Homo sapiens: one gene and its partners. The protein of the gene in region 3 purifies or fractionates together with the protein of the main gene of each other region. This does not show direct contact. Each region holds a gene or a part of one and is shown on either strand. Other genes may lie near its edges.

Evidence for each region.
Region 1: the proteins of CTNNBIP1 (region 3) and BPGM purify together in Homo sapiens (affinity purification with mass spectrometry; 2 studies listed by BioGRID and IntAct, with this or other methods). This does not show direct contact.
Region 2: the proteins of CTNNBIP1 (region 3) and CTNNA2 purify together in Homo sapiens (co-immunoprecipitation; 3 studies listed by BioGRID and IntAct, with this or other methods). This does not show direct contact.
Region 4: the proteins of CTNNBIP1 (region 3) and TK2 purify together in Homo sapiens (affinity purification with mass spectrometry; 2 studies listed by BioGRID and IntAct, with this or other methods). This does not show direct contact.

The regions. Positions count from the first base shown.
Region 1 is NC_000007.14:134,649,074-134,657,223, reverse strand, and holds part of BPGM (bisphosphoglycerate mutase), read right to left. Parts: intron 1-8,150. UniProt on the Homo sapiens protein: Plays a major role in regulating hemoglobin oxygen affinity by controlling the levels of its allosteric effector 2,3-bisphosphoglycerate (2,3-BPG). Also exhibits mutase (EC 5.4.2.11) activity.
Region 2 is NC_000002.12:79,872,497-79,880,646, reverse strand, and holds part of CTNNA2 (catenin alpha-2), read right to left. Parts: intron 6,572-8,150; coding exon 6,305-6,571; intron 1-6,304. UniProt on the Homo sapiens protein: May function as a linker between cadherin adhesion receptors and the cytoskeleton to regulate cell-cell adhesion and differentiation in the nervous system. Required for proper regulation of cortical neuronal migration and neurite growth.
Region 3 is NC_000001.11:9,899,400-9,907,549, reverse strand, and holds part of CTNNBIP1 (beta-catenin-interacting protein 1), read left to right. Parts: intron 1-8,150. UniProt on the Homo sapiens protein: Prevents the interaction between CTNNB1 and TCF family members, and acts as a negative regulator of the Wnt signaling pathway.
Region 4 is NC_000016.10:66,507,105-66,512,874, forward strand, and holds the end of TK2 (thymidine kinase 2, mitochondrial isoform 1 precursor), read right to left. Parts: intron 4,963-5,770; coding exon 4,864-4,962; 3' UTR 899-4,863; downstream 1-898. UniProt on the Homo sapiens protein: Phosphorylates thymidine, deoxycytidine, and deoxyuridine in the mitochondrial matrix. In non-replicating cells, where cytosolic dNTP synthesis is down-regulated, mtDNA synthesis depends solely on TK2 and DGUOK.

The DNA of each region.
Region 1 (8,150 bases), on a different chromosome or scaffold from region 3:
TAGTCATCCTTTAGATCAGTTGTGTCCAATCAAGATATAATGCGAGGCACAATGAAGTTTTAAATTTTCTACAAGCCACATGAATCCTATAGGTCCAAAAGCTATCATTCAGACATGGAGTCAAAGGAGATCATTTTGGAACTTTAAGGTGTAACAACTGCTCTATTGGATTTTGGACTTGCATGGGGCCTGCTGTAGCCCCTTTGTTTTGGCCAATTTCTCCCATTTGGAACAGGTATATTTACCCAATGCCTGTAGCCCCACTGTATCTAGGAAGTAACTAACTTGCTTTCAATTTTCTAGGCTCATAGGCAGAGAGGGCTTGCCTCGTCTCAGATGAGACTTTGGATTTGGACTTTTGGGTTGATGCTGAAATGAGCTAAGACTTTGGGCGACTGTTGGAAAGGGCATGATTATGTTTTGAAATGAGAGGACATGAGATTTGGGAGGGGCCAAGACCAAATTTCATCTTGAATTGTAGTTCCCATAATCCCCATGTGTCATGGGAGGGACCCAGTGGGAGGTAATTGATTCATGGGGACAGTTACCCTCATGCTGTTCTTATGATAGAAAGTGAGTTCTCACGAGGTCTGATGGTTTTATAAGGAGCTTTGCCCCCACTTCACTTATACTTCTCCTTGCTGCCACCATGTGAAGAAGGACATGTTTGCTTCCCTTCCACCATGATTGTAAGTTTCCTGAGGCCTCTCCAGCCATGCTGAACTGTGAATCATTTAAACCTCTTTCCTTTATAAAATTACCCAGTCTCTGATATGTCTTTATTAGCAGCATGAGAACTAATACAATTCTAACACATGATCCATACAAAAATTATTAATAAGGCAATTTACATTCTTTTTTTTCACAGTATGTCTTTGGAATCTGGTGTGTACTTTATAATGAAAGCATATCTCAATGTGAACCAGCCACATTTCAAGTGCTCCATAGCCACATGTGACCAGTGGCTACCGCACTAGATCATGCAGCTTTAGAGCTCAGCTTAAATGTTAGTTCCTGTAGGCCAGTGGTTCTCAAACTTTAATGTATATCAAAATCAAATTAAACAGATTGCTTGGGCCCACTTCCAGAGCTTGATTTAGTAGGTCTGGGGTGGGACTGTGAATATGCATTTCTAGCAAGTCCTCAGGTGATGGTGACATGGCTGGTCCAAGGACCATGTTTTGAGAACCCCTGGCTTTAGACTTCCTCTTCACCCATTGGGAAGTAGGTCAGGCCTGCTGACCTACTCCTGTAGCATCCCGCTTAACCACATTTGGTGCACTTGCGATGGATCCCTTGAGATATATTACCTGTTCAATGGCTATGTGCCCTGTAAGACTGTAAGCTGCATCAAGGCAGGTCTTACTGCTGTATCTCTAGAACCTAGCACATCGCTTGGCACATATGAGGCACTCAGTAGGTGTACTGACTGAACCAAAGTCAGACAGAAATGACTGGATTGTACACATGAGACTAAGGCTTGAGAGTTTTAGTGGTAACTGCCACAGTAAAATCAGTTGGCAGGGCTAAGATGTTAGGAAACTTTAACTTAAGAATCTCAGGGTATTTATGTCAAAACAGGAGCCAAGAATAATTATCCATTATAGTTCTGTACTTTGTACTTTTGTACTATAAGTTTAGTATGTTCATGGATGGCCATAATCTCCACAGAAAAAAATGGAGATTCTGATTGACTTGTTCAAAAACATATGGCCAGTAAATGGCAAACTGGAACTGCAACCCTGGTCTTCTGCCTTCAACCCCCCACTGGAGATATTAGAGTCATGGTTTGAGGATCTTGGCTCACTTGGCTTCACTTCACAGGGGTATCTCCAGTTCCAACTTGTCCTTCCAAACCCAGGCAGCCATTTCATCAAACGCAAACGAACAAGGTGAACATGAAGGAGGGCTCACCTTATTAGTACTCTTGAGAAAAACCTCAAGGCACAAAGTAAGCCAGGCAATAGTCACCCCAACTTATAAAGAGGAACCTTACTAAGAATAAATACTCCCCATCCCAAATTAAAAACTATTCCTTTTCAACCTCAAGCTTTATTTTTTTTGTTTTGTTTTGTTTTTCATAAAAGCTCACCAACCTGTACCTGGTTTCTCATTTATCCCATAGCAAAAGTTACTGGCACTTAAGTACCGATTTTAATCAATAATTTACATCATGTCAAAAAAAGAACACATAGGTTATTGATTTATCCCCCAGGGTGTCTTCCTTTTTAAAGTGTGATCTGGCTTGAAGAAAAAGTTTACTAAGGAAACATCTTTTACACAGCTGTGTATCTTATCCTCCCTCCCCTTCCTCTTGTCCATTTACCTTCCCTTCTAGCCATTCCTTTTTTAGTTTCCTGACACCAAACTTGTGCCTTACCCACTCTACTGAAATGGTGCCTCAAAAGACTACAGGTTAGTTACTTCTTACTAAGTGGAGATCATCTTCTCTCATGACTTCTCTAAAACAGACTACTTCCATCAAGAAAAAAAACCCACTAAGATTTTGGTGTAGCATTTCCTCCAGCTCTTCCACGGTTACATCTTGGTCTTGGGTGTCTGCATTTTCTTACCTACCTGTAAGAGTACTATGAAGATGATCATATTAGTCACAGTAGCCAACATTCACAGAGTGCTCACCTGTGAATGTTAGTTCAATGTTACTTGGCACTGTTTGAATCCTCAACCACCATTCCATGGAGTGGCTACTATGATTACTCCCATTTCACAGATGAAGAAACAGGAGGAAAGGTTAACTTGCCTAAGGTAACAGAGGCTGTAAATGGCAGAGCTGGAATTTAGTCTCGAGAAGTCTGTATCTATGCCCTGAACCATTTTGCTACACTGTCACATTGAAACCTGAGGCTCAGTCTTCAGTTCTTGGAAACCCTTTTCTCACTGCTTTAATCACATTAAAATGGATGACTCATAAATTGAAAGCCCCAAATACTCAGTCGCCCTAGCCTGACCAATTAATTCATTCTTCAAACATTTTGCAGATCCCATTTAGGCATGGCCCAATGCTAGGCCTATGAGGAATATGTAATCCAACAAGAATTATGTCTTCATCTTCAGTACGTGTGTGTGTGTGTGTGTACCTAAAACTCAAAGTAATTCACACCATGAGAAAGCACTTCATTAGTAAAAGAGAGGTGGGATGGGAGAGAATATTTCTGAGTAAGGCTTCGTGGACACAGTATTTTTTAAGCTGGATTTGGAAAGGCAAGGTTTAGATTTACAGAAAAAAGTAAAGGAATTCCAATCTAGGGGAACAGTGAGTGAAGGCAAAGGAACAGGTACATATGGAAAATGGCGAGCCCATTCAAACTGGTTGGAGTATAGCTAGAGTAACCATACATCCTGATTTGCCTAATAGGCAAAAAATATTCTTTCCATAAATGCCACCATAAAATTGAAGTTATGGTTCAAGATTAGCATTCTTTTGGCAAGGTCAAGACAGAGAGGGTAGTTAGGAGAAAGAGGCACATGCATCATTATTACAGAACAGTATTGTCTTAGGCCTGTTTCCCCAACATAATTACTACTAGGGCCCCTTTCACACTTAAGTGTCCCATTTGGAAAATTATATGGCCACTGTAAGTATAGGGTATAATAAGGAAGCAGGAGAAGACTAGCCTAGAAAGATAAGAAAAAATAGTGACACAAAAAAAGCCTGTGCCAAAGCATGTAGGTTTTTCTATACATATTGGGACATCATTAAAAGTTTAGTAGCATGCATTTTAGCAGGATCAGGCAGCACTTACTTACAGAAATAGACAGGAAAACCCAGGAGTATGAACACTAGCTGAGAGGTTTTTGCAATAATTCTGGTAACACAGAATAAAGACTTGGACCAGGACAATGGCCGTTTAAGTGAGATGAAGGAGATAAACGTGAAAGACACTATAGCTTAGCTCAGATGTTAGCAACTTTTTCTGTAAACCACCAAATAGCAAATTTTTTAGGCTTTCTAGGCTATACTGGTCTCTGCCATAATTAGGTACAATTGTATAATTCTGCCATTGCAGCTGAAAGCCACCATACATAATATATAAGTGAATAAATCTGTTTCAATAAAACTTCAGGTATGGACACTGAAATTAGAATTTCATATAATTTTCATGCACATGAAATATTAATTTATTTCAACCGTTTTACATGTAAAACCCATGCATAGTTTGTGGGCTGTTCAAAAACAGGTAGTAGACATATGATCCAGCAAGCCCGCCACTGGGTATACATCCAAAAGAAAGCAAATAAGTATACTGAAGAGATACCTGCACTCCATGTTTGTTGCAGCACTATTCACAATAGCCAAGATATGGAAGCAATCTAAGTGCCCATCAACAGATGAACAGATAAAGAAAATTTGGCACATATATACAATGGAATATCATTCAACCATAAAAAGAACGAAACCCTGTCATTCACAACAACATGGATGGAACTGGAGAGCCTAAGGTTAGGTGAAATAAGTCAGGCATGGAAAGACAAATTTCACATGTTTTCACTCATATGTGGGAGCTAAAAATTTTGAAAATTGAATGTATTGCAATAGCAGAATTATGGTTGCCAGAGGCAGGGAAAGGTAACAGGAGCGAGGGGGTTAAAGTGAGGATGGTTAACAGGTACAAAACTATAGTTAGAATAAATAAGATCAGTATTCAGTAGCACAATAGGGTGATAATAATTTATTGCATTTTAAAATAACTAAAATAATGGAATTAGAATGTTCCCAACACACAAAAAATAAATGCATGAGGTAATAGACAAATGCATGAGGTAAATCAATTACTCTGATTTGATCATTACATATTGTATATCTGTACCAAAACATCACATATACCTATAAATATATACAACTATTATGCATCCATAATTTAAAATTAAAAATGTAAATTTTTTAAAAAACGGTATAGGCCAGAAGCCCTCAATATGCCGATATTGGCCTAGCTGGATCCCACACTTAGATCTACTAATGACATCAGCATTTTTAACCTTTAAGCATCCCGTCATAGAATAATCCCAACATTATGAAATCACTAGATTTTATTCTTGGCCAGAACGGCAAGTACCATGAGTAATGGAATCCCATTCATAATTGTTTTTATTCCTCACAGAAGGCAATACTGAAGACATTTAAATCAGTCTGAGTACTTGACTTTTGCTTAACTAAATTATTTAGGAATAGGTTCAAGATTGAACTATAGGGGAAAACTATAGGATTCATCCTGTTAATCTCCTTCAAAAATATCATCTGTCATTTTGACACACTTTACCCCATTAGACATCTTCATAAATTATCCCATAGTGCCTCACACTTCAGGGGAATGTATACTTGCTCAGGAGTAGGTGCTATGTAATTGCTTTGACAATAAACAAATCAAAGAACATACTTTGCAGGTGACTTATAACTTTCAAAGATCTTTCACTATAAATGTATAGAAATTCCATCTAAGTTAGCTATAAAGCAAAGAATATTCTTTCCATAATGCCACCATAAAATTGAAACATAAAATTATGATTCAAGATTAGCATTCTTTTTGGCAAGACAGGGACTGTAGATAGGGGAGTGATGTACTTGCAAGGCACTGCATTTACTAAGGTTACCCCTCTTAATATTTTTGAGATCCCTAAGTACTTTCAACAAATGTAGCATGATCATCTGCTGCTGCTTCCTACTCCTTCATTAAACTATATAATTCCACATATGAAATTATGTGAAATATAATTTCACATTATATTTCTCCCATAACTGAGGCTCCTCTGTTATAAGTACTCCCCATAACTGAGGCTCATCCTGTCTTCCAAACTGACACTCCTGGGACTTTGCTTCCTCCCTTCCTCACGTGTTTGAAAGTTAATAATGCCTAAGACCCTAGTGGTACAACTCACGGACAAATAGGACAAACTACAGGGTAAAGTCCAACTTAAAAACCTAGTTTTTCTTGTATTTCCAACGTTTAAGCAAGAAATTTGATCAGCAATATAATGTTGAAGTTATATAAAATAAGACAAATAGAACCAGAGTCACTTAGATTCAAAGCTCACATTTAAATATTAGTCAGTTGCTACCCTAGACACTCAGATGACGTTTTCCTTGGTCCAAACCCCTTATTGTGTGGCTTTGAGCAACTTTTAACCCCCACTGCAAGAGGAATCTAACTTTATAGAAGATGGGCTGGCTATTATTTGAGGACAGAGAAAAAGAACCATGTCTTTAACAAAGTAAAAAGGAACAGGTCTCAAGGGAAATGAAATCTGGGGCTCAGTTCCTTAAGGCTTTTAATGTTTCTTTTGAGACGCAGTCTCACTCTGTCGCCCAGGCTGGAGTGCAGTGGCGTGATCTCGGCTCGCTGCAAGCTCCGCCTCCCAGGTTCGTGCCATTGTCCTGCTTCAGCCTCCTGAGTAGCGGGGACCACAGGTGACCGTCACCACGCCCGGCTAATTTTTTTTGTTATCTTTAGTAGAGACAGGGTTTCACCATGTTAGCCAGGATGGTCTTGATCTCCTGACCTCGTGATCTGCCCGCCTCGGCCTCCCAAAGTGCTGGGATTACAGGCGTGAGCCACCGTGCTCGGCCAAGGCTTTTAATGTCTTAACAAACTATGCCTTCCCCCAAATCAAGTTCACTATTAGAAGTTCAAACACAACTGTACCTAAAAGTGTTCCATGGTCTATTACTTTTCCTAAGGCTTTGTAGAAACTTTTTCATCTGTACTTGCAGTTATAAGAACATCATTTTACAGGAGCAAATGTTACCACTTACAGGTGTTTTCCAGACACTAAAACCCTCTCATTCCCCAATCTTACATCTACTAATATTTCCTACTGATTGCTTGTTACAAGAATAACCAACCATACCAGGCAGATCCCTACTCATGGCGAAGAGATATACATATGTAATGAGATGTGCATTTGCTCAGGGCATGTTGCATGTTCCAGCCTGCATGGCATCACCACTGTGGACAACACCCACTCATGACGGACCCCTCCTTCCTATCTCTGGTCATTGTCTTCCCCAGGGTAGTAGCTTTTATCAACACAAACTGTGTCCACCAAATTCCAAAAGTCTAAAGTAAAAACAACCTAGATATGAGCCCAGCTCTGCTACTGACTGACAATGTGATCTTAACTTATTTAAATTCTTTGAACCTCAGGTTCCATATCTATAAAGATGAGGATCATGAAACTACTGTTCTCAGGGGGCTATCAGAAAGATTAAATGAGATTATGGTGAAGCACTCTACCAAAAAGTGAGAGGTAGAATGGAGCAGACTTTGACTAACTCATAAATAATGGCACAGATCTCAGGCCCGTCAAAGCAATCCTACCTTGCCGATGATATGAGCAGAAGCGAAAGCTGGGAATAAAGTAAAATGAAGGGAGGAATTAGAGGAGAAATGCTTAAATTAGGTGGTAGAAGGAGGAATGCAATCAAATATTGTGGGATGGAAGAAGGTGATGGTAAGATACAGTCTCAGAAGCTTACCAAGTACTAATATTCTGCAATCCAAATGCTTTAATGAAGTGGTTAACATTTAATTTATATTTTACAAAGTATGTTTTCCTCATATTTGTGGCTAAGTTTCAGCAGAAGGGTTTTGTTATTAAGTAATACTTTTTGTCCTGCCACCCATATAAACATCTTTCATATCAGATTTCATTCCAAGGATGTTTCAAGAAACCATTCGGTTCAAACACGTTTGTGACCTCTGTTCTTCAGGCCCCAGACACACAAAGATGAAGGCCAGGTGAATTTAGGTGCATCAATCATTACTTAAAATGTGCCTCTTAATCTCAACCAACCACAGCAGGCAAAAGAGGAAGAAAGACTAAAAGCTCTACCCAAACACTAACAGTAGTTGCTTCTAAGTGACATTTTTCTGCCACATTATACTTCGGTATGCTCCAAATTTTCTACAATAATCTGGTTTGGTTTAAATAGGAACACAAAAGAGTATATCCTTGTAATGGGGACAAAAATAGGAAGATCAATAAGACCTAGTATTTGCTAGCACAACAGGGTGACTATAGTAAAAAAAAAAACAATTTAATTGTAAATTTTCAAATAACTAAAAGAGTACAATTGGATTGTTTGAAACATAAAGGATAAATGCTTTTGGTGACAGCTACCCTATGTACTCTGA
Region 2 (8,150 bases), on a different chromosome or scaffold from region 3:
CAGAAATACAAACTACCATCAGAAAATACTATAAACACCTCTATGCAAATCAACTAGAAAATCTAGAAGAAATGGATAAATTCCTGGACACATACAGTCTCCCAAGACTAAACCAGGAAGAAGTAAAGTTATGGAATAGACCAATAACAAGTTCTGAATTTGAGGCAGTAATTAATAGCCTACCAACCAAAAAAAGCCCAGGACCAGATGGATTCACAGGTGAATTCTACCAGAGGTACAAAGAGAAGATGGTACCCTTCCTTTTGTAACTATTCCAAACAACTGAAAAGGAAGGACTCCTCCCTAACTCATTTTATGGAGCCCGCATCATCTTGATACTGAAACTGAGAAGAGATGCAATAAAAAAGGAAAACTTCATGCCAATATCCATAAGGAACATCAAAGCAAAAATCCTCAATCAAATACTGACCAACCAAATCCAGCAGCACATAAAAAACTTACCCTCCATGACCAAGTCAGCTTCATCCCTGGGATGCAAAGCTGGTTCAACATAGGCAAATCAAGAAAAGTAATCCATCACATAAACAGAACCAAAGACAAAACCACATGATTATCTCAATAGATGCAGAAAAGGCCTTTGATAAAATTCAACATCGCTTCACATTAAAAACTCTCAATAAACTAAGTATTGATGGAACATACCTCAAAATAACAAGAGTTATTCATGACAAACCCACAACCAATATCATATTGAATGGGCAAAAGCAAGAAGCATTCCCTTTGGAAACCAATACATAACAAAACTGCCCTCTCTCACCACTCCTGTTCAATATAGTATTAGAAATTCTGGACAGGGCAATCAGGTAAGATAAAGAAATAAAGCATATTCAAATAGGAAGATAGGAAGTCAAATTTTCTCTGTTTGCAGACAACATGATTGTATATCAAGAAAACCCCATCATGTCAGCCCAGAAACTCCCTAAACTGATAAGCAACTTCAGCAAAGTCTCAGGATACAAAATCAATGTGCAAAAATCACAAGCATTCCTTTACATCAATAACAGACAAGCAGAGAGCCAAATCATGAATGAACTCCCATTCACAATAGCTACAAAGATAATAAAATACCTAGGAATACAGCTAACAAGGATGTGAAGGACCTCTTCAAGGAGAACTACAAACCACTGCTCAAGGAATTAAGAGAGGACACAAAAAAATGGAAAAACATTCCAACCTCATGGATAGGAAGAATCAGCATTGTGAAAATGGCCATACTGCCCAGAGTAATTTATAGAATAAATGCTACTTCCATCAAACTACCATTGACATTCTTCACAGAATTAGAAAAAGAAACTACTTTAAATTTCATATGGAATTAAAGAAGACCCCGTATAGCCAAGACAATCCTAAGCAAAAAGAACAAAGCTAGAGGCATCATGCTACCTGACTTCAAACTAAACTACAAGGCTACAGTAACCAAAACAGCATGGTACTGGTCCCAAAACAGACAGACCAACGGAACAGAAGAGAGACCTCAGAAATAACACCACACATCTACAACCATCTGATCTTTGACAAATCTGACAAAAACAAGCAATGGGGAAATAATCTCCTATTAAATAAATAGTGCTGGAAAACTGGCTAGTCATAGGCAGAAAACTAAAACTGGACCCCTTCCTTACACCTTATGCAAAAACTAACTCAAGATGTATTAAAGACTTAAATGTAAAACCCAAAACCATAAAAACCCTAGAAGAAAACCTAGGCAATACCATTCAGGAAATAGGCATGGGCAAAGACTTCATGATGAAAACACCAAAAGCAATTGCAACAAAAGCCAAAATTGACAAATGGTATCTAACCAAACTAAAGAGCTTCTGCACAGCAAAAGAATCATCAGAGTGAACAGGCAATCTACGGAATGGGAGAAAATTTTTACAATCGACTCATCTGACAAAAGTCTAATATTCAGAATTTACAAGGAACTTAAATTTACAAAAACAAACAACCCCATCCAAAAGTGGAGAAAGGATATGAACAGACACTTCTCAAAAGAAGATGTTTACATGGCCAACAAACATGAAAAAAAGCTCAACATCACTCATCATTAGACAAATGCAAATCAAAACCACAATGAGATACCATCTCAGGCCAGTCAGAATGGCAATTATTAAAAAGTCAAGAATAGATAGATGCTATAGATGCAATTGGTGCTAGCAAGGCTGTGGAGAAACAGGTACGCTTTTACACTGTTGGTGGGAATGTAAATTAGTTCAGCTATTGTGGAAGACAGTATGGCAATTCCTTACAGATCTAGAACCAGAAATACCATTAGACCCAGCAATCCCATTATTGGGTATATACACAAAGGAATATAAGTCTTTCTACCGTAAAGCCACATCCACATGTATGTTTACTGCAGCACTATTTACAATGGCAAAGTTATGGAACCAACCCAAATGCCCACCAATGATAGACTGGATAAAGAAAATGTGCTACATATACACCATGGAATACTATGCAGCCATAAGAAGGAATAATATCATGTCCTTTGCAGGGACGTGGATGAAGCTGGAAGCCATCATCCTCAGCAAACTAACACAGGAACAGAACACCAAACACCACATGTTCTCATTCCTAAGTGGGAGTTGAACAATGAGAACACATGGACACAGGGAGGGGAACAACACACACCAGGGACTGTTGCGGGGTGGGGGCAAGGGAAGGGAACTTAGTGGATGGGTCAATAGGTGCAGCAAATCACCATGGCACATGTAAACCTAGATAACAAACCTGCACATTTTGCACGTGTATCCTGGAACTTAAAGTAAAATTTTTAAAAAATAAATTTTAGGGCAAACTAGCTGTGCTGTCTATGAAAATATATTTTGCATTTTTATGGTTCCTTTTACTTCAGCATTTCAAAGACGTTAAACTTATTTAAATTTTCACTATATGAGAAAGGTATTATACCAAGTATCAGTAAGAGATTTTGCCAGAAAAGTAAACCACAGGAAGTTTGAGTGAGTTTTTCACCCAATGAAATATCAATTTGTTTAATATCTGAGAATAGCATTTAGGACTCATGACAGATGTCCATGAATTCAAAATCAATTTCAAGTTAGCATGCCTAAGAAATTTTTAAAAAAACAGTATTCATCATACAACTATGGAACAGAAATTTATAATTTAGTCATAAAATAAAGAGAAACGGTATATTATTTTAATGAGAAAATTTCAAGTATCATTAACTACTGTCTAGGTTTGCTGATGTCAGAAGTGATGGAAAATCTACAGCAGGTGAATCACATTACAGTCTGTAAATTCAATACTAATTTACTAGCATTACTACTTTTGAGAAAGTGCTGAAATTAAATTGCATTTGTTAAATGACAATTGTTAGGGAACCACATCAAATGGAATTATTGTTTCAAAACTGCAATTCAGACAGCCTCCACATTTTGATTTTTGTTGACCTCCAAGAAGTAAAATGTTGACCATTAGATAACGCTTTATGTAATTCTCATAGCTTGAGAAACAGTATACATTTAATAAGAATATATTACCTCATTAATATACTTAGCTAATATAAAATATAATTTTTTCATTCATATATAATATACTGAGTTAATATTATAAGTAATATAATTAGTTAATATAGAAGTTTAAAGTTAATAAAATATAGTTAGTGACTTATTTACCATATTATACTTTATATTTTAATTTTTCCAACTGTTTCAAATATATCATGTTTTATAAAAAACATGTTTGATGGTTATATTCATGTGTTAAATTTCCAAAGCCTTATTTGTCCAGCATGAGGAGATATCACTTCAGGAAAAACAACAACAACAAAAAAAAAACCTTGAACATTCAACATGTTGACATACTTTGCTAATAGATTTTCCCCACATGACCTCAAGTTTGATTTTTATGAATGAAAGCCTTTTGCACTGTTGCACTGACGCATCGGTTGTTACATTAATTGGGGATAAAAGGTGCTTTTAATGAAAATCGTCTGGAAACAAAAGGCAGCATGGGGAAGCAGCAGTTGTCACACTCTTGGACAGAAGGTGGCAGCAGCTGAAGTTCCTGGACTGTTCACAGGCCTTCTCTCTGTGCTTCATATTTTCACTCTTAACCAGCTCCTCACTTAGGTTTTGTTGTTTATTTTTGATTATAAAATAAATTATAACTAGAATAATGTAATTGTGTCAAAATCTGACTAAATAATCCATTCTTAACTAATTTTAATAAACACCAATTTATAAAATAATTTTGTATTTGAGATTGCCTATGATTTTTATTCTTTCATGGATGAGTCCATTTGTGTTTCAATACACACCTTTAAAATTAATGTAGCATTACAATGTTTTAATATCTGTGTGTATGACCTGCTCATTTACTTTTCCCTGAAATATGGGCTCATTCATTCTTTATTCTAGAATATAAAAAAAGACAAACAAACAAAAATCCTTTATCACTCCTCTGTCAAGTTCCAAAAGAATCCTCTTAGAATTTGTATTGAGATTGCTTCAACATTATGAAAACTGATAGGATCAATAGTTCTCCTACTCAAGATCATGATATCATTTACTGACAAGTAAAACTTGTCCCTCAATAAAGTAATATAATTTGACTTTTTAGGTCCTTCACATCTATATTAGACTTATTTCTAGCAGATATAAGAAATAATAAAATAAAATTAACTTTTTAAAAATTATTTGTTTTGTGAATATCTCCTCGTTATTCTACTTTATTTTACATGATGAAAATCTAGAGATTTTTGTATATTTATGTTATATAAAGTAAACATTATTTTGAACTCTCATTATTTTCTATGAATTTTCAGTTGCTCGCTGCAATTTTGTGAATAAAATTACCTATTATTAAGTCTTCATTTCTGTAGCAAGTGCTTTAAATATATTATCATATTTAATCCTCACAAAAAAAACCTTAGGAAATAATATATGGTGTGAGATACATATAACTAACTGTAAAAATATGGGAAAGAGGAGAGACCACTATGAAAATGGTAAGAACTATTTGAGTATGAACTGTTAAAATTATTCCTCAGTTATATCATCCATCTCCAAGCCTTGAACAATCATTGCTTTGCTCCTGGACCTTTTTTTCCAGCTGCTAACTAGTTATTTCTTGCCAAAAATTCACATCAACATATTCAAAAGCAAGCTCATCATCTTTCTTCATGACCATTAAGTAACCTATTTTTCTTCTATGAATTCCTGTAACATTGTGTTTTATCAATTAAATGGTGTTTAGTGCATTCTACTTCCCTCATCTCCCCTGCAGGGTTATTTAACCCTGGAAAGTAGATGCTAATTATTTATAAATCTTTGTAGGCTTTCATTGATCATAAGATAAATAAATTCCAACTTCTCACAGGTCCTCTGACCCGGGGGGAATGGGGGCTGTCATCCCGGGGTGCTGATGACATGCGTGCAACCTTCTCACTCACACTGATGCTTCACATATGGCTCAGCACAGTGAACAATCCTCCTTGCTTCTTCCCTCACCAGGACACACCTACAGAAACAGCCAGTGTAGAATGTAGGACTTTCAGAGAACTAACACAGGCTCTCCCCAGAGGGTCTGTTCTAATGAAGACCAGGGTCCTGTGTGGGATCATAGGGCAATGTACTTTATCACTGATTTAAAACAAAGAAATTGATGGCAGCTTTTCACGCAGGCACAACATAGAGGCAACGTACATCTAGGCTGCCCATAACATGTGCCCCTTTAATAATAAAGATGATCGTCAAATTATGAACTGTCCCTAAAATAGCCTGTAAGTTATCTCATCTACCTGGAAGGGATTGGGCACTCTTAAATACAGTTGTTTCTTCTTTTTTCCCCGAGACGGAGTTTTGCTGTTGTTGCCCAGGCTGGAGTGCAATGGCACGATCTCGGCTCACCGCAATCTCCGCCTCCCGAGTTTAAGCGATTCTCCTGCCGCAGCCTCCCGAGTAGCTGGGATTACAGGCATGCGCCACCACGCCCAGCTAATGTTTTACATTTTTAGTAGAGACGGGGTTTCTCCATGTTCGAACTCATGACCTCAGGTGATCCACCCACCTCGGCCTCCCAAAGTTCTGGGATTACAGGGGTGAGCCACCGCAGCCACAGTTGTTTCTTTAAAGACAAGTGATAATGGCTTAGCCAATATATTACAGAAATGCATTATGTAGTTTATCTTACTATTAAAACCTCCAAAAGAGAAAAATCAATGTAAATTATTGTAGTGGCCCTTCATCCTCAATACATTTTTTTTTTTTGTCAACACCAGTGCCCACCCCTCTGTGTACCTCACCAGGATGCTTACGTCAAACTCATTAAGAGCCGCAGCCAGCTCGCCGATGCCCGTGTGGCCCTTGGCTTCGTCAGTGGGCGAGGTAGCTTGAGCAGCATTGGAGATGCCGGCGATGGCCTCCTGGACTTGTTTGAACACATAATCTCGGTTGGCTCTCGTAGCGGCGACATCTGGGTGGCGGAGAAATGCTTGAGAGGCCGTGTACAGCATTGTGGCATTCTTCTTCAGAGCCCCTCGGGCGGCTGCCATCTCATCCCGACAGTGAGGATCCTTCAGCTCCTGTGTGTGTAACACATGAAAGCTGTCACACACATGAAATTTGCATAGAAATATTTGCAACACAGTTTGGAGTCACAGACTCTTAGTAACACACTGAACTTCAGAAACCCTTGTGCTGTTTCTAGCTGCCAGGCCTTTGCATATACTCTTTTGTTTGTTTGTCTGTTTTATAGAGACAGCTAGGTCTCTATAGTGACCTAGGTTGGAGTACAGTGGTGTTATCAAAGCTCACTGCAGCCTCCATCTCCTGGGCCCAAGTGATCCTCCCTCTTCAACCTCTTAAGTGGCTAGAACTACAGGTGCATGCTTCCACACCAGGCTAGTTAAAAAAAAAAAAGTTGTGGAAGTGGGGTCTGGCTATGTTGCCCAGGTGGGCCTTGAACTCCTGGCCTCAAGGGATTCTCCCACCTCTGCTTCCCAAAGTGCTGGAATGACAGCCATGAGCAACCACACCTGGCCTACTGTCCCTTCTATGTGAAATGCCTGAGCTTTCCTCCTCTGCCCTACCCTTTCACCTGACAGGGCTCCACTGACTTGGCACATCCTCCACCCAACTTTCTAAGCTGTGTCCCCTTTCATCTGTTCCCACAAGACACTCTTCCTCTCCTATCACTAACACTTCCTACTTTACTGTATTTTTTGAGCATATATTTCTCTTCTATAACGTACCTCTAATGACAGCAGGGAGCCCTAGTTTTCTTATTCAGTGGCTCTTTAGTCATTAGCAAAGTGGCTGGCCTATAAGAGGCATTCAATAAAATATTGCTGAGATAATATAAAAACCAAGCCACCAAGAAGGTAAATTGATTGCATGGGCCATACAGTTAGTTATGAACAGACAGAAAACCTGAAAACGTCAGTCTTCTGAGGCCCTACTTGCCTCCATATTCAATTACTGTTACAAATGGGAAACCAAACTTCTGATTTTTGCTCAACACATCAGTGTCCCTTAATTATCATTTTCAGAATAGGGTTCCTGCTTTGTTGTTGTTGACAGCCTCTAATGGCAGCTCATCATTAAGTTTAGAGAACAGAAAATAACAGGCCAAAGATGATTTGTTTTCCTAGTTTTGGATGACAAAATAATACCACTAGGGAGTCTCTTTATTTCCATCTTTAAAGGCTGTTGTTAAGAAAATGTTCAAATGATTTTCAGAAATGTTAAAGCAGTGTTGCTCTTTGAGAGCCATGCAGGATTGCCAGCTGTGTTATCTCTGGGAGAATATTCTTCCAGCTGGAAAACATCAGTAAAGCGTATTTGAACCACTGGGCTTCTCTTCCTATTTGCTCATTTGGCACATGATAGATGAATGACCTGGTAACAAGAAATCACATCTTCTGTTTTGTTGGTCAAAACAATTCTGAGACAAACACATTATATTTGATATCTAAGATTGTCACGAAAATTGGTAATAAATAATGAACAATTTACTGAACCATCTTTTTCCCCCTTTGCTTAAGCATTAAAAGATGGATGCTAGGTAACACAATTTCTAAATTGGGATTATCTAATTTGAGCCCCAGAGATGAAAATGGATAAACAGGTAACAAATATTTGAATGTATTCTCTACTGGGCAA
Region 3 (8,150 bases):
CCAGGAAATTGGGCCTGTTCTCATGGTAGGTAGGAGAATGTTTCAGTGGCCACAAACTTGAGCTATTAATGAGAATGAGGCCAGGTGCAGTGGCTCACCCCTGTATATGCCAACATTTTAGGAGGCCAAGGCGGGCGGATCACCTGAGGTCAGGAGCTCAAGACCAGCCTGGGCAACATGGTGAAAACCCGTCTCTACTAAAAATACAAAAATCAGCTGGGCATGATGGCGAGTGCCTGTAATCCCAGCTACTCGAGAGGCTGAGGCAGGAGAATCGCTTGAACCAGGGAGGTGGAGGTTGCAGTGAGCCAAGATCGTGCCACTGCACTCCAGCCTGGGCGACGGAGGAAGACTCTGTCTCAAAAACAAAAAACAAAAAAACTCCCCAAAAAACAGAATAAAACTTATCTCCATGCTGCTCCAAATCTGTGCTGTCAGAACATGTCAGAATGAGAGGACCTTGGGGGTTACACAGGCCAGCCCCTTCTTTTATGGTTAAGCGTCTGTGTCCCCTAGAAGCTGGCTCTTTTGAAATCTTATAGCAGTTTATGCATTTTCTTATGATGCCTGCTAGTTTCTACCCCATTTCATCTCCATGTGTACACATGTGACTCTAAGCTTTCTGAGGCCAGAATCTCTACTGGGTTTGTCTTTGCATCGTCCACAGTGTCTGAATCAGCGCCCTGCACAAAATGTAAACTCTTCAAATATTGGTTGACTTGCCTGGGCATCTCATCGCACCAAGACTCCTGCCCCTGCCCCTGTCTTTTCATCAGACCATGCTTCTTGTAGACTCCTCATCCAGGGTGCAATATAGTGTAAACCCAGCAGTGTCTTGTTCACAGGGCTCACATGACAGGGCAGCCCTTCCTTGATGGATCTGCTCTCTCCATCCTTGCCTGTGGGGAACAGCTGCTGCTGGTGCTGACCAAGTAGTCACTTGACACTCAGCAAATATGAAGTGTAGCTCTTTATTATTATTTTTTTTTTTAGATGGAGTTTTGCTCTTGTTGCCCAGGCTGGAGTGCAATAGCACAATCTTGGCTCACTGCAACCCTCTGCCTCCTGGGTTCAAACGATTCTCCTGCCTCAGCCTCCCAAGTAACTGGGATTACAGGCGTGTGCCACCACGTCTGGCTAATTTTTGTATTTTTAGTAGAGATGGGGTTTCACCATGTTGGTCAGGCTGGTCTCGAACTCCTGACCTCAGGCGATCCACCCACCTCGGCCTCCTAAAGTGTTGGGATTACAGGCGTGAGCCACCGTGCCTGGCCTGAAGTGTAGCTCTTAATTAGACCATGGACTTTGTACCAAGACCATCAGGTTTGGATCTTGGTTCTGCCTTCAGGAGCTGCATGATCTTCAGCAGGTAACTTAATCTCTCTGTGTCTCAGTTTCCCCATATGCACAATAGTAATACTTTCCTCATGGAGTTGTTGGGAGGATTAAATTAAGTAATACCTAGTAGATACTCAGAAGACCACCTAGCACTTGGTATATGCTAAATTGAAGTAACCATTATTTCGCCTTTTTTTATCTGCTTCTTAGCTCCCACCAGCATTTAAGCTCTTTGAGAGCAGAGATTTTTGTCTCTTTTTGTCTACTCTTATAATATAGTACCTAAACTTTGTAGTACTCTGAAAATATTTGTTGAATTGAATGACTGATTGAGCACCTATGTGCTAGGCACTGTTGCGGATGCTATGGACGTAGCCAAGAACACGGTCTTTAAGAGGCATGCTCTTATGAAGTTTATCTTCTAGTGGGAGAGACAGATAGTAAACAAATAAACGAGTCAACAAAAGAATGTAGGGTGGTGAGGCCGGGCGCGGTGGTTCACGCTTGTAATCCCAGCACTTTGGGAGGCCGAGGCGGGTGGATCACCAGGTCAGGAGATCGAGACCATCCTGGGTAACATGGTGAAACCCCGTCTCTACTAAAAATACAAAAAAAAAAAAAATTAGCCGGGCATGGGGGCGGGCGCCTGTAGTCCCAGCTACTCAGGAGGCTGAGGCAGGAGAATGGCGTGAACCCGGGAGGCGGAGCTTGCAGTGAGCCAAGATCGTGCCACTGCCCTCCAGCCTGGGCGACTAAGCAAGACTCTGTCTCAAAAAAAAAAAGAATGTAGGGTGGTGAAAGAGATACGGGGGAAAATAAAACAGAAGATAGAAAGTGGATGGGACGAGGGTTAGGGTCATAACTTTAGCTCTGAGAAGGTGGCTTTTGGGAGACATGGATGGTGATCTAGGGGGACAGCTTTGTGGACAGAGAGGACTGCAAGAATGATCAACCCAGAGGGGCTGGAGTGTGGTTAGTGATGAATCAGCAGGGGCCAAATTTGTGGCTGTGGTTAGGAGTTTGGATTTTACTTTTGAATTCTGAACAGTGGGAAGTCACTGCATGGGAACTTTTCCTGGGGTCTAGGAGAATATTTGAGTCCACACTAAAAGACAGAACAGGACATTACGAAGAGCGGCTGGAATAGGCTCTCCTTGTCCTGGGAGGTTTTTGAGGCCAGCCAGAGTATTGAGTTTCTTCCCATCAGGTTCCTTATTTCTCTGGCCTGGTCCCCTGAAGATGAGGGAAGCATCAGCTAGGTTGATGACAGTCCTGGTATGTGTGTCTGTGTGTCCTGCATTTTATTGAGCTTCCTTTTTTCCGAGTCCCTAAGTCATCAGCAAACATTTCTTGAGTTGAATGAATGAATGTTGCCAGTGCTTAGCAGCTTGTCGTCTACAGTGGAATGTCTGTGTTCTCTGCTCCTCTCTGTGTGAGTTAAAGCTTCTTATCTTGGCAGTGACTCTTAAGTAGTCTTGGAGTTTTGCAGCCATTCTTCATAAATGCATCAGCGACACACATACATGTATATCACTGTTTCTTTGTTGAGAGTATACCAAGATTGACTGGACAGCTTTCCTACCCCCACCCTATCCCTACTTCTCTGCCAGTCCCTGCCATCACCAGGCCCCTCTATAGAGGGTTGGGCCACACTGGCAACTCTGACCATCTCCTGTTTGATTACTTGATCAGGAACACAGTGGTATCTAGAAAGCATTGGTTGTCTTTCATCTGGGCTGAGCGGAGTTGGGTAACTCAGCAGAGCGCTGAGAGAAATGGCATTTCAAACCCAGGGGCTCCACTCACCAGGAATCCAGAGTGGGACTCTTTAGACTGGGTGCCATTGGCCAGCTTTTCAGATCCCTTTTTGGTCCTCCCATCAGTTGTCCACGATGCCACTTGCTCTGCTAACCTGGAGAGACCAACACAAGTTAGTGGGAATCAAATAGGACGCTTGTGTTGCAGGTCACTTTCAGAGTCCTGGGGCATTTTATTGGCAGAATCTGAAATGCCTGCTAGTCATATGTCATCTGTAGATTTGTAAAAACTAAACGCAGAGTGGGTGCAAGCTTTTTCTCATGTAGCTGGTTTTCTTACTATGAGAATGATACGTGCTCATTTAGAAAATGAGAAAGTGAATGATAGTGGCATTTTACATACACTGTCTCATTTCATCCTCACGGTTTCTGAGATACGTACCATTATTACCATTTTGTATGTTAAGAAGCTGAGGCCTAGAAAAGTTAAGTAAAGTGTTTGAGGTCGAGCTAGTTGGGAACAGAATCAGATTCAAACCAGGCAGTATGACTCCCAGGCAGAGCTCTGAGCACCATGTCATATACTGATTCTCAGCAGAAACCATAGAGAAGAAAGAAAAGCCTCCCTTAAGCCCAATGTAGGTGATACTCTTAGGGTAGTCAGAGTTAACTTGCTGGCTGCTCCAAAGGGTTTGAATCCTAGGCCCTTTCCCTGTCTTGTCTGACCCTGGGCAAGCTAAGTAGCCTCCCTTTGCTTTACTTTCCCTGACTGTAAATGGGGATAATGATACTTGTACCTTCGTAGTTCCCAGGGGCATGGTGGTGTTTGAGCCAAAGTGCTTTTGAACTTCTTTTATGAAAGGGAACTGAGCACCAACTACTGTTATACTCAGTTATTAAAGACCTATTATGCTCTGGTCTTCCATGAAGCCTTGTTAAAAAGGGAAAGACAACAGTCCCCAGAGGGAAGGGTGTCCTTCTGTGGGGGAATAGCTGGACAAAAACATTGTTCTCCCCTTTTGAAGTTTCTTAAGGATTGAGGGTCATACCTGTGGCTCCATTTTTCATGGTTGTGTTGTAGTGTAGAAACTTCTGTAAACAGGTATGTGTTCTGTGCATCATAACATGATTGAGGACCCCCAATGGCAGGGCCAAGAGGGAGTTAAAGGGCTTGGTTTCTAATCTTGGTTCTGATGTTTTTTATAAGCCAGGATCACAGAGACACCAAGAAGTGGTGGTTGTCTTCCATTACTCCTCCCTCCCTCCCCTCCTTCCTTCTAATGACTCATTGATTCAATTAACAAATATTTATTAAGGCTTTATTACAATCTGGACACCATCATAGGTACTAGGAATATCGTGGCAAGCAGGACAAAAATAGTTATTCCCCAGCCGGGCGTGGTGGCTCACGCCTGTAATCCCAGCACTTTGGGAGGCCAAGGCAGGCGGATCACGAGGTCAGGAGATTGAGACCATCTTGGCTAACATGGTGAAACCCCGTCTTTACTAAAAATACAAAAAATTAGCCTGGCGTGGTGGTACGCACCTGTAGTCCCAGCTACTCGGGAGGCTGAGGCAGGAGAATTGCTTGAACGCTGGAGGCGGAGGTTGCAGTGAGCTGAGATTGCACCATTGCACTCCAGCCTGGGCAATAGAGTGAGACTCTGTCTCAAAAAAAAAGAAAAAAAAAAAAGTTCTTCCCCATACCAAGCTCTTAGTCTAGGACCAAAAGGCTTATTATATAGTTGGGATCGTGTGAATGAAGAAAGAATGATTTGATGAGAGTGCTTTGAACTCTTAGGAGGAGAGTCAGGACATGATCTCCAGATGCACACTGGCCCCAGTGGCTACCTGCCCTGAGTGGACATTAAGGTGGGGGGCTGGGTTGGCTTTCCAGAAGAGCAAGGGAAGAGTGAAACAATTAGAGCCCTTCCGTGTCCTGTAACAAAAGCTGTACTTGGTATGGACATCTTGAGAAACAGTGCACACCTCAGGAGCCATGGTTAGCAAGAACTCCCTTCCCACTTAAAGCCTTAACCCTTTGACTGTTAACTTGAGTTTCAGTCAGGGAGAAATGCTCATATTGAGGATTTCTTTTCAAAGTTTTTGCTTGGGGCTGTGGATTTTGAAGTTCTGCCATTAACACGGTGCACTTCTTATGTAACAGGCGCCAGACCTTGTCTCTGCAGAGTTCTCTTCCTGCCCGACACGTCTCTCGCTGCCAACTTTGGAAAGCAGGCATATGGTGGCAGGCGGGCTCTCCACAGTGCTCATGGGGTTCCTGGGGGAACTGATGCACATGGACACCTATGTCCTCTGGCCCCCATTTTGGGTCAATATATACAGATTAGAGTGGGGGCAGGGTTCTTTCTTCCCCAAGCACCAGGCCTTCAGCTCTCTTCAAAGACCAAGGTCAGGGAGGTCTAGCAAGCAGTTCATGTGAAAGCACACAGTGTTCCTCTCTCCCTCCAGCCAGGGCTGGGTAGAGAGGGCAAAGGGCTGGCAGAGGCAGCCACTCACATTTGGAGTGAGAGGAGGGTGCCAGGACAGCGAGGCATATCCTTGTGCGATGTTATTTTCACCAGCCCTTGTCATGTCACTGTATGTGGCACTCCCGGTGCTAATCAGCTGGCCCTTCAAGCTGAGGGGCGGGGCAGCAGCATCCAGCATCTGATTAGGAAGGCAAGGCCTGCACAGCGAGGAGGCCAGGTCACTCAGTGCACCTGGACATCTTCAAGTGTGATTGGAGCCCGCAGTGACGCTGTTTCAGCTAGAAGATTGTGACCCACTTCCATATCCTCTCCCACATGGAGAGCTGGGGAGGAGGCTTTGAGAGCCAGCTCCAATTAAGGTGTTTTTTTCAGGCCCGAGTAGCACCCAAGTGTCTAACCCACATGTTTTCTGCTGCTGGAATCCTGTGGTCAATGTCCTTGACCTGAACCGAATAACCACCCCAGGGCAGATGAAGTTACCACCCCTGAAGTCCTAGATTCCACCAGCAAGGCTTCCTGCAAAGATCAGGATCCCTTGTGGATCAAACACCTCACATAATATGGGCCCCACCCCTGTTCTTCCTGATCAATCACCAAGCAAACCTTGGACCAGTTTCCAAGGAGATACTTAGCCTTGACCTCCCTGCCCAGACAGGCCTCACAGCCACCTGCCTCAGGCAGCCCTGGCTTCCCAGAGACCCATCCTGACCCTGACTTGCACCCTTGCCAAATATCCTAAATATCCTTCTGCTGCAGGAATATGAAATGAGACCTGTTTCTGAACTTCTAGGTTTCTGTTATTCTTTCCAGGTAGATGACATTTTAATGCTTCTCTGTAATTTTACATTTCTTTTTTGTGTGTTGGGGAGGGGCCTGGGGTATGATTTAAATACGTGAAGCTGTTAGTACTGGTAGCACTTAAGCTGGTGAAGTGGTGGGTCTGAGCCCCTGAATAATCCCATTTTACTTACCAAGAAGGGAGCAAAAGTACCTGCCAAGGTCAGCTCTGGCTAGGCCCTATGAGCCTGTTCCTGAGCGTGTGCTCACACTCGGCTTCTGGACTGAGGCAGAAGGTCCTTCTCCCTCCGTGTGTGTTAATACTGTTGGCACTGCCCACAGCCTCCAGGGGCACATAGCCTTCCTCTGGCCGATCGCTGGAGTTGCAGGAAGATGAGGTGCTGGTGATTTTTTGGAAGACATGGTGGGGCTTACAGGCAAGCAAGCTGGCCCCCAGTTCTGCTTTCCTGCACAGAGCAGTCTTCCAGAGTTTGTGGTGGGATGTAAGGGAGCTCGGGCAGCCGGAGCAGTGCAGAGACCTGGCTCCTTCCTCCCTCCTGAGGTCTGCTGCTGCTGGCACAAGGGGTCACGTGTGCCCGTTTGCCTTGTGTTTGCTTTGGGTGCTGGCTTCCCACTCTCACTTCCTAATCTCTAAAGAGGAGTGGCCTGTTAGGTCCATGAGTGGTGACAGTGGAGATTGAAGTGCTTAGCGTCAGGCACCGCACTGCACTGGCAAGAGCACTCAGATGAAGGGTGTTCTTTCATTCTCATCTGACCGCATTCCACTTCATTTAAAAACATCATTCGCCCAGGCTGGAGTGTGGTGACACGATCACAGCTCACCGTGATCACAGCCTCAACCTCCCAGGCTCAAGTGATCCTCCCATCTCGGCCTCCCAAGTAGTTGGGACCACAAGCACATGCCACCATGCTGTGCTAATTTTTTGTATTTTTAGTAGAGATGGGGTTTCACCTTGTTAGCCAGGATGGTCTCAATCTTGTGATCTGCTCGCCTCGGCCTTCCAAAGTGCTGGGATTACAAGCGTGAGCCACAGCACCCGGCCTCCACCTCACTCATTTTAATGGCATTCTATTGATTGTTTTTTTTTTTTTTCTTGAGACGGAGTCTTGTCGTCCAGGCTGGAGTGTAGTGGTGCAATCTTGCCTCACTTCAACCTCTGCCTCCTGGGTTCAAGGGATTCTCCTGCCTCAGCCTCCCGAGTACCTGGGATTACAGGCATGTGCCACCAGGCTCAGCTAATTTTTGTAGGTTTAGTAAAGGTGGGGCTTTGCCATGTTGGCTAGGCTGGTCTCGAACCCCTGACCTCAGGTGATCCACCCACCTCGGCCTCCCAAAGTTCTGGGATTACAGGCGTGAGCCACCATGCACAGCCATTTCTTTCTTTCTTTCTTTCTTTCTTTTTTTTTGAGACGGAGCCTTGCTCTGTCGCCAGGCTGGAGTGCAGTGGCATGATCTCAGCTCACTGCAACCTCCGCCTCCCGGGTTCAAGTGATTCCCTTGCCTCAGCCCCCCAGGTAGCTGGGATTACAGCCATGCGTCACCATGCCCGGCTAATTTTTTGTATTTTAGTAGAGATGGGGTTTCACCATGTTGGCCAAGATAGCCTTGATCTCCTGACCTTGTGACCTACCCACCTCGGCCTCCCAAAGTGCTGGGATTACAGGCGTGAGGCACTGCGCCTGTCATTTTTTTTTTTTTTTTTTTTTTTGAGATGGAGTCTTGTTCTGTCGCCCAGGCTGGAGTGCATTGGTGCCATCTCGGCTC
Region 4 (5,770 bases), on a different chromosome or scaffold from region 3:
TGTAACAGTCAGTTATAGAAAAAGACATTTCAGGCTGGGTGCAGCGGTTCACTAATCCCAGTACTTTGGGAGACCAAGGTGGGCATATCACTTGAGAGCAGCCAGGCCAAACTGGGGAAACCCTGTCTCTACTATTAGCCAGGCGTAGTGGCACACACCTGTAATCCCAGCTACTCAGGAGGCTGAGGCACGAGAATCACTTGAGCCTGGGAGGTGGAGCTTGCAGTGAGCCAAGATCACACCACTGCACTCCAGCCTGGGTGACAGGGCGAGACCCTGTCTCAAAAAAATAAATAAATAAAATAAAAAGATATTTCAAAGAAGTGTCATTCCCTTCTCATCCCTGTAGCCCAGTCTCATCCTTCCCTTCTTTCTAGCCTTTACCCACCAACCTATTTTGTCTCTGGGCGTCCTTCCTATATTTCCTTTGCATCTGTGTATTTTCTTCTATCGGTTTTCTTTTTATTTTTCGAGATGGAGTTTCATTCTTGCTGCCCAGACTGGAGTGCAATGGCGCAGTCTCGGCTCACTGCAGCCTCCAACTCCTGGGTTCAAGTGATTCTCTTGCCTCAGCCTCTCAAATAGTTGGGATTACAGGTGCCCACCACCACGCCTGGCTAACTTTTTTGTATTTTTGGTAGAGATGGGGTTCCCCCATGTTGCAGGCTGGTCTTGAACTCCTGACCTCAGGTGATCCACCCACCTCCCAAAGTGCTGGGATTACAGGCGTGAGCTACCACGCCTGGCCTCTCTTCTTTCTAATATAAAGGGTAGCATACTATAGACACTCGTTTGGGCATTGCATTTTTCACATAACTTTATGTCCTAGACATTACTTCATAACCATTCAGAGAGATCTTCCTCATTCTTCTGTATAGCTGCACAGTACTCCACCATGTGAATGGAAAATGGTTTATTTGACCACTCTCTTATGTATGCATCTTTAGATTGTTACCAATATTTTGTAATGATTAACCATCTCCCAGGACACCTGTGTTCCACAGAGCCCAGTCTGGTAAACAACAGTCTTAAAGAAAAAAAAAGAAAAGACACAGAAAGAAATTCAAGACAGCTTCTGTGGACAGCAGTGAATGGCAATACCCATTCTGGATTCCACGACATAGGCTTTCTCTTAGCTTCTGTTTAATGATAGCTTTTGCCAAGTTCACCATCTTATGTAAACTAAAGGAACACGAAATTCACTCTAGCCTTAGGAAAGCTGAGGGGATGGGATTATTAGGAAAAGAAAGTGTGTGCCAGTAACCCTGAGGCCTTCAGTGAGTAATCCTGGCCAAGCCCAGGGCAGCCAGGGATGTATTATTGCTATTCCATTCTGAACAATGGATGACTGACATTTGCAAGAGCTTGCCAATTATTTTAATAACTAACTCTTCAGGGTGGAGAGGGCCAAGGAGATGGGTGTTCCTCATTCCACACACATGTGAACACTTGAGGGAGCTCCCCACCCCAGGGCTCTAGGAAAAAAGAAGTGATTCAGATTCCATAGCACCCTGTGGGTAGACAGGTTTCAGGACCACCTTTTACCTGCTCTGAGGTTTAAATGGCACCACCGTCACTCGGGTCTAATGGTGCATGTCTGCAGGAAGATTGTTCTGACTGATATATTCCCCAGGCGGGGGGACACTTCTCATCTAGGTAAAGGGCTCCTACGGAAATGAAAGGGGCAGAAAGAGAAAGTGAAAAGTAAAAACAAGCTGGGTAATGTTTCCAGAGGTCCACATTCACTCGTTTGTAAATTCGGTCACTCATGTTATTGGAACAAGGATGAGGTGGTTTCATTCCTCACAGAGTTAGGCCTTGCAAGGGACATTACGGTACGGGATGGGAATGGTGAGGGTGAGGATGAGGGTGGGATGACGTGGGGGCAGAGGGGAGAGGGAGGTGAAGCCCAAAGGACCCCACGGCGCTGATGCCAGGTCATGTGACCCGGTCTATGGGTGGGCACTGCCCTCTTGCCTTTCCCCCCACCTCCCAGGGCCTCTAGCAAAGCCTCGTAAGAACCTTCCAGCTTATCTTAGTTATGCCTTGGAAAGGGACATTACCAGCATCTGGATTAAAGAGTGGATGGGGAGCAGTGGGCTCTGATGCCAACCGTGCCCAGAGCAGGAGCTCCAGCTGCCATCCTGGACAGTCAGGCCCCAGAGGAAGGAAGCCAGGAGCCAAGAGGTGGACCCAAAAGAGAAAGGTGGGAAGAGCCTGGGACCCCGATGGCCACTAAGCCACCACAAAGCCCTGGACCACCCCACTACACACTTCTTTTATGTAAAAGATAAATATATTTCTATCTAGTTTCCAAAAAAAACCAGGTACATAAGGTATTTTTAAATGGTTATAATCATATATTTTACATGTACTGTCAAAAAGCTTAAATAAAAGCTGAAATAAATGCTAATTGAAAGAAAATGTATATGTGCAACAAAAAAGTCAGCGAGAGGTAGAGCAGCTGAGCAGCTCTGCGGTGTACTGACTTCATGTCCCCATGGAACTCCAGTCTCACAGCAAGGATGAGGTGAGCCCAACATATCTGGAATGTCACTGCCCTGGGTGGCCCCTCTGGCTCTACAGGGATGCCAGCCCCTGCCATGCCCCTCCCAGCCATGACCCCCCAGTGCTCTAAGGACAAGGCCCTGTTGTGCCCATGTGCCATCTGCCCTTCTCCTGCCCTGGTCCATGGTGTCTATGACTGCTCTGTGACCCCTGCCCCCACCAGCTCTGCCTGCCGCAGAGGGACAGCAGCCCTTGTGCAAGCTGGCTTCAGCCGTTTCAGGTGTGGTCTCTAGGCTGGGAGATTTTGCGACCTGCCCTGGCCACTGCTGATGCGTCCAGCCTCCTCTCCAAGGTGGAAGGCAGGGAGGACAGCAGGCTCTCTTAGACCCATACACTCCACGTTAGGAAACACGGAGTTTGAAAAATAAAAACACGTTAATCTACTGGCAAAAGCAGCTGGCAGAAGCTAAAATCACTGGCCTAGGAAGCACTTCAAAATCAACAACAGGGCTTAGGTGAAGGAGTTATTGGGTATCACAGAGCAAGAAAAAAATCATGGGTACGTGGTCTCAGGACCTCTTGAGATTGTGCCTTAGGCAAAAAAAAAAAAAAAAAAAGAGAGAGAAATCACATTTCCCCAAAAATGGATGTGCAAAATGAGCCGAGAGGAAATATTGGACTGTTCATTTACAAATTCTCAAAGACAGACCCCACATGTCAAGATTCCTGGTAGCAAAGGTTCTGCCTTCGCCAGTTTTCCAGCTAATTAGCAGCACGTGGGCTACAGGTGCTGCTAGACACAGCTCCCGCCTGGCTGCTGCCTCTCATCCTGCCAATGGCACAAGAACTGGTCCAAACAGGAAGAACCAGGAGTTGCAGGCCTTGACTTCCTAACTCTCTGGGACTGGCCCAGCAGGGGCACTTGGCACCTCTGCAGAGTCGGAGCATTGCATGCACAGGTGCCCACACTCACAGGGGCCTGGGAGCGGCCTTGCTACCTCTATTTACAGCCAACAGCTGCTCTGAGAGGCTGTGGCCTGTTTCTCCAGAGTTGAGCCTTAATCCTTTCCAGGGTTTGCATCTAGTCTTCTTGAAGCTCTCTCTGCCCACCTCCAAAGCTTCAGGACCAGCAATGCTTCCAGAGCCTTTATTTGCAAATCCCAACTTTCCAGACTATCCCCAAAGGGAACGTTCTTTCTTTCTCTTGTTTTCTGCTTGATCCAAGGGGCAGCCTCGCCTTCAATGCAGTCCAGCTGAGTGAAGCTAAGGTATTTTCTGAGCCAACAAAGATGATTTCAGGCTCTATGGCTCGAGGCATTTCCCTGGATGAAATAACACTTCAAAAAGACTTAAGGCCACTTGTGTCTCTCTCTTGGGCCACAGACTTTCAGTAATTCCAAGAGCAAAGCTCCTTATACAAGGACACAGACAGTACGGGAGCCTTGGAAGCCAGGGCTGGCTGCCCCTTGCCCCAGCTTGGCTCTGGGCAAACCAGCCAGGCACCAAAAGCGACTTCCCTGACATGGAGTTGGCAGCAGTTCAAGCAGGACCTTAATCACCAAGGAGACTGAGCACCCTTCAGGAGCCAGCATGTGAATCTCAATGTCCACATGAAGATGTGGTAGATGGGGCTGCAGCGACCTCGGGCAGGGAAACCACTGAACACCGGGCTCCAGCCAAATGCAGCATAATTTTGTGGAAGTCTAGAAATGCTGACTGTCCTTGGGAACTGCTCAATATTGGGAAAATGTTATCAGCTCCGCACACTGCCAGCTCTCCCCAAAGAGACATGAGAGCCTCCAACCGGAAGAGGCAGGGCGGTGGGGAACAGCTCTCAGGAGGAGGCAGCCCAGGGCAAGGGAAAGTTGCTGAGTCGGCTGAAAGTCTGAATGGTGCCAGCTCCACTGCACACAGGCTGTGTGACCTCTGGGGAGCCCCTCAACCTTTCTGAGCTTCAAATTCCTCACCTGGGATATAAGACTCCTACCTCGGCCTCCTAATGAAGGCTGAGACGATTGGTACACAGCTCCAGCGTGGTGTCAGGCACACAACAGGTGCTCTCCCTAAGGGCTTCATGAGAGCGACTCAGCAGCACAAAGCCATGGGAGAGGCACCGGGGGAATGTGAGGCTGCGAACAGCAAAGGGCTTGGCAAACCCATTGGTCCCGTTTGTCATTTACCCACGAGGGCCAGAGACGCATGACAAAGACACTAGCAAAGGAGATGAGACCATTAGGAAAATCAAGCTGGCCAGACACAAAGCCCTCCTGGGAGCAAGTTTTTCCAGATTGCTCCCAATAGCTAACTTGGCAGCAGCAGGCATTTTTCAGACATGAGCCATAGACCTTTTGCCTCCTATGGGCAATGCTTCCGATTCTCTGGAGTTAATATTCGATCCCGATTTTGTTCAAAGAGTTCTAACATCCTCTCCATGTGGTGGTCAGCCTCAATCACCTGGAAATTAGACACATGGGTCACAAGGCTGCACTGACCTCAGCAGCATCCTCCTTTCACAGCTGGAGACAGACAGATGGAAGCAGGCAGCAGGGGGCAGGGAAGGGCACAGAAGGTTGCAGGCAGATAAAAAGGAAGGTTAGAGCCAAATCGCTTTCAGCTCTAGGGCAATCTACATTTCCAATGAGGTTTTCACTTAAGAATGTACTACAAGAGCTAGGTATGGTGGCTCATGTCTATTATCCAAGCACTTTGGGAGGCTGAGACCTGAAGATTACACGAGCCCAGGAGTTTGAGACCAGCCTGGGCAACACAGTGAGACCCTGTAAGCTCATGAATGATTTGTTTTTTTCCCTCATCACTTTCTACCCTCCTTTTTTTCCATAATGAGGGAGAAAAATAAGCTGTACTTATTTAAAAATCTACTACAGTAGGCCGGGTGCAGTGGCTCACGCCTGTGATCCCAGAATTTTGGGAGGCCGAGGCAGGCAGATCACTTGAGGCCAGGAGTTTGAGACCAGCTTGGCCAACGTGGCAAAATCCCATCTCTACGAAAAATATAAAAAATTATCCAGGCATGGTGGCATGCGCCTGTAGTCCCAGCTATTCAGGAGGCTGAGGCAAGAGAATCATTTGAACCCAGGAGGCAGAGGTTGCAGCGAGCCGAGATTGCGTCACTGCATTCCAGTCTGGGCAACAGAGTGAGGCTCTGTCTCAAAAACAAACAAACAAAAAATTACTACAGTAATATCTCACTTTCCGGCAACCTCACTGCCTGCAAGAGCCATAAGCAGAAGTGTTTGAGCCC